Regions from separate parts of the Homo sapiens genome. Here region 1 is linked to region 2. Evidence: fine-mapped expression QTL. A gene starts in region 2. The other region holds a variant in brackets. All regions are shown on one strand. Distances are between the middles of the regions.

Evidence for each region.
Region 1: its variant is fine-mapped to the expression of GJA3 in blood mononuclear cells (TOPMed, PIP 0.98).

Annotation. Positions count from the first base shown.
Region 1 is chr13:20,119,605-20,122,104 of GRCh38, forward strand. LOC105370101 (a long non-coding RNA gene) reads right to left here and starts at 185. Exons shown (of 3, transcript XR_941719.3): 1 at 101-185. The variant A/G (reference allele first, on the strand shown) is at 1,186.
Region 2 is chr13:20,159,758-20,162,257 of GRCh38, forward strand. It overlaps GJA3 (gap junction protein alpha 3), which reads right to left and starts at 1,295. Exons shown (of 2, transcript NM_021954.4): 1 at 1,133-1,295. RefSeq lists silencers at 1,026-1,115, 1,276-1,355, 1,586-1,945.

The DNA of each region.
Region 1 (2,500 bases), 40 kb before region 2:
ACACACACACAGAGAGAGAAAGAAAAAGAAACTTTCGGGAACCGGACAGCTTTTCTGTGCACTGGAAGGCACTCACCCCCCTGGCCTGGTAGACTCCTACCCATGAATCTGATGTCAGCTCAGACGTCTTCCTCCAGCTGCCTGTAGGACGCCTAGACCAGAAAGGGCGCCTCTAGATGCCCTCCTAGTTCTCAGGCCTTTTTCTTCATAGCACGTGTCACCGTTTGTGAGAACAAGTGATTTCTATGATTGAGAACTGTCTCCCCTTCTCGTCTGTGAGCCCTGTCAGTTCGGGGTGTCTGATTCTGCTCCCATGCTCAGTACCCAGAGGCTGATACATAGTATGCACTCGATAAAAAAAGGTTTTTGAGTGAATGAATCAATGTATCTGATCCCAGCTCTGCCTTTTACTAGCTCTGTGACACACTCAGATACTTAGCGTCTCTGAGTTTTACCTTCCACATGTGCACAGTGGTGCTAAGTGTTAAATAAGATTTATGGGAGGCCATTGAATTGGGCTGAGCTCCTGCACTAGGCCCCAGTAGGCCAGACCAAAATGGAATCACTTGTGCTAAGTGCCACGTAATCAAACTGAAACTTAAACAAAACAGGAAAATCCCCCACCAGGGCCAGTTTTCCTGAAAAAATAGGAGACTACCAGCAACCAGTCAAAAGGGGGCCAGTCCACTTGAGCCTGCATAAGAGAGGTTTCCTCCGCTTAAACTCATACAAGGAAATGTGGAGGGGTCCAGGTTGTTGGCGTTTTGAGCAAAGAATTGAACAAAACGCACAAACAAAGCAAGGAAAGAAGGAAGCAACAAAAGGAGAGATTTATCGAAAATGAAAGTACGCTCCACAGGGTGGGAGCCGCTGGAGCATAGGGGCTCTTTTTACAGAATTTTCTGGGGTTTAAATACCTTCTAGAGGTTTCCCATTGGTTACCTGGTGTACACTCTATGTAAATGAAGTAGTGACCTGCAACCAGAGGCTGAGGTGAAGTTACAAAGGTTACACCCGATGCAAGCCTCTGTTTGCAAAGTGAAGTTACAAAGTTACAGTTCTATGCAAAGGAAGACTTGGCCCACAATCAAGCTGATTGGTTGTGGGAAGCGACCAATCAGAGGCTGAAGTGAAGTTACAAAGTTACAATCCTATGTAAACGTCTGATTGGCTGCCCTCAGAGAC[A/G]CTTTCAATTTTCCATCTGCCAGGCAGAAAAGGGTGGGGGTTTGCAAAGGGAGTAGCCTCCGGTTTTTTGTTTGTTTTTTCTTTTTTGAGACGGAGTTTCACTCTTGTCGCTCAGGCTACAGTGCAACGGCGCGATCTCCGCTCACTGCAACCTACGCCGCCCGGGTTCAAGCGATTCTCCTGCCTCAGTCTCCCGAGTAGCTGGGGTTACAGGCGCCCGCCAACACGCCAGACTAATTTTTGTATTTTTAGTGGAGACGGGGTTTCACCACGTTGGCCAGGCTGGGCTGAAACTCCTGACCTCAGGTGATCCGCCCACCTCGACCTCCCAAAGTGCTGGGATTACAGGCGTGAGCCACCATGCCCGGCTACCTCCGGTTTTTTTGTTACTTAGGTGTGAAAAGTTGGGGTTTTCCTTTTGATTTAGTTCTAGGAAGTCAGCGTGAAATCGGCCTTAGGTTCCCTGCCTCCAGACCCTATTCTCCGCCTCAGAAAGTCACCCAATGATAACCAATGCACTTTTCTCACCACACGATTTCCTCATTCCTGCTTGAGCTGCCTTACCAAAGCCGATTGTTCTGCAACACCCAGCCGAGTGCCTTCTGTTTTGTAGTCTGGAGGCTGCCTGTTTCATACATTGCTAATAAGAGTCAATTAAATCTTTAAAACTCAATTTGTCAAAATGTTGTTCTTTGGTGTCAGAGACCAATACTGTAGGGAATTTGTGTTCATTGACTGAGCTCAAGTACATAGAACAGCTGGAGGGAAGAGACGCGCAGGGCAAGGTATGAGGTGGGGGCTGCAGGTGCACCACATTCCCACAACTTGGAAACTCTTCCAACCTGCTTGTTCAAGAGCTTTTTTAGAGCTTGATTTCTAGTCCCCTCCCCTTCTCACAGGTCTAGGGGTGAGGCTGAAGGATCCAACCTCCTACTTACCTGGTCTTTCCGGTGACCAACCCCATCCTGAAGCTATCTAAGGGTTCACCCTAAGTCACCTCAGTAGCATAAACTCAGATGTGATCAATAGGTGCTTCATTATGAATAACAAAAGACACTACTATCACTCAGGAAATTCTAAGGGCTTTAGCGGCTCTGTGCTAGGAACCAGGGACAAAGACCAAATATATTTCTCTAAATGTACCCTATCATCCTAATGGGCTCAAGGTGGTATCTTATTGTGGTTTCGATTTGCCCTTTCCCCAGTGATTACTGACATTCAGCATCTTTGGTGCTTATTAGCAATTTGTATGTATTCTTTGGAGAACTGTTTATTCATGTCCTTTGCCCATTTTAAAATTGGGTTGTTTGGGTTG
Region 2 (2,500 bases):
CCCTTATGAGATGCTTATCTCGATATGAACCAAACTGCTGAGCAGGTGGAATCTGTGCCAAACTAGCTGATGTTTACTTTGAACACACTGATATTCGGAAAATAAATCCCTCTTTTTTCCTCTTTAATCTTTTAATGTTTGTCTTGCACATGGATGGACCGCCAGTGAAGTGATGCGCACATCATAAATCACCATGGTTTTTAATTCCTGGGTGATGAGACCCATAATTCGCTTGTCAGCTGTTTGTATAGAATCATTTTTAAATGGCATGTTTTGGAGACATCTTGATAAAATAAAAACTGGAGTTCTAAAGTTGCAGTCACATATTCACGAACCGAGAACTCTACATGGTAGGATGAATTTTGCTCACTAGTGTGGAGTCGGCAACAAAGCAAATGCAGCCGCGTCACTGCCGTTTGTTTTCTCAAGTCTCCTACGGGAAGGGGCTCGGACAGTGCTTTTCCACTCCTCTGCAAATTCCTTATAGTTGAACACATCATAACAAACATACAGGTCGAGAAATCTGGTCGTGGCATTAATAGCTACAGTGTTTCTTAAAAATAAAAAGTTTTAAAAAGTTTCTGAAAAAAATGTAGGCGAGCCAACCTTGTTTCTAAACAATCCCAACAGGACTTTTAGGAGCACGGCGATGCTGAATGCCCGTGGACGGCTGGGTGCGCGCCGTTAGCTGGCGCGGTGACATCTGCTTAGAGTTTTCAAGCATTTCAGCATCGCTAGGAGCCCTACAGCCTGACGGTCCGGGACAGCCCGGCTTCCTCCACCCGAGGGGGAAAACAACCCCAGGAAAACAACTTAAACTCGGCCTTGGACTGTCCATCAAGGGAAGCCAAACGAGGCGCTGCTCTCCAGACCTCCAGGAGCAAAGGAGGAAGATCAATTATTCCAAAAGTTTCTCACAAATTTCCCGAGCTCCCCACAACTTTTTGAAGAATCCTGAAAGAATCCTAGGGGGCTGGGAGCCGCACACGTGCCGGGGCTCGGCTTCCCAGCTCGGCAGTCTCAGCCCGCTGGGCTCGCCCGGCAGCTCCGCTGCGCCGCCGACCCGCCCGTCCCCGCCCCGCGCTGCCCTCGGCCCCTGTGCCTGGCCTCCGGGGCGCCCGGCCCGCCTTACCCCGCTCTGCCGCGGCGGCGACCCGGGTGCGTTCCTCCGGAGCAGGGCTCCCGGCCGCTCTGAAAAGAATTCCTTTCACACGTGCGGTGCTGCTTCACGCGTGCGCCCCGCGCCAGGGCCCGACCTCCCCGCCCTGATCGCCATCCCTGCAGCCCCAGTGTGCGCTGCGCCCGACGCCCCCAAGCTGCAGCTCAGGACGCCGCGCCACGCCCCCGCCGCCTCCGAACAGCCCCGCCCCGCGCGCTTCCCAGCACGCACACCTACCGCCCCCGCATCCCTACCCTGTACGCGCAGCCACAGCACTCGCCCGCGTCCGCATTCCACACCCTACCCCGCGCGCACGTCCATGCCTAGCGCCTGCATCCCCATCCCGCACCTGCGCGGGCCCTGGGGATGTGGACGCGGGGGCTCTTCCCTGCCGCCTACGCACTCCGGGGCATGCCCGCGCGGGACGTGAGAGGAGAGCCGAGGGCTGTTGGGGCGGGCCCGACCCGCTTGCGGGGCGCCCACCGCACGCAGATGCGCCAGCCCGCGCCCCGCTCGCGCCTGTCCTGGGCTTCGCAGGCCCGGCGAGGTAGCTGCTCTCCGGGCGCTCCCACGGTCGGAGGCGCGTGGGCGTCGGGCACCTAGGTCTCGCCCGCCTGCAGCCGCCTGGGGACGCGGGTTCCGGACGGCTGGCGCGGGGCGGGGCGGGGACCACCGAGCAGGAAGTCCCCGCGGAAGCGCCGCCGGGCACAGCGTGGGTGCTGTCGAGGAGTGGCGCCCGGGCGGGGCGGGAGGTTATAAATAGCGGCCGCCATCCTGCTTCTCTTCAGACACACTTAATTTAGCCGGCAGGCACACGGATGCTTATTTTTAAAAAAAGAACTTGTTTTATTGCGCTCGAGGTGACCGGGAAGGTGTCCCCGCGGGTCACTCGCTCCATCTGGTCCTGGAGACGAGATGCCAGGGCGAGGCCTAACCTGCCTGCTGGCGCCCAACGAAGATTTTAACGTTTTCTGTTCCCTTCGGGGTGGTTTTACCACGCTTGAGAGGGACGCCTACCGCGGAAGGCCGCGGACCGAGGGCGGCATCGCGTCCTTGTCTGCTGTCTGGGCACAGCCTAGAGAGGCCGCGGGTCCCCTCCCCGTCCCCCAAGGTCTGGAGTGGGGTTTGACCAGCCTGGGATATTAACAAATATCGGTGGACTGCATTTCGGTGATCATTCCACAAGCTGAAATGGCTTCAAAATCACCTTTATGAGTAATAAGTTTATTCCAGGAATGTGGCAAAATGCAAGTCTGATAGTTTTCGTGTCTTCATGGAGCAGCTTCCGTCGGCTGCCTTCGTTAGCGTTTAGATCTACTCGGATTAGCAGTTGGCTTGCCC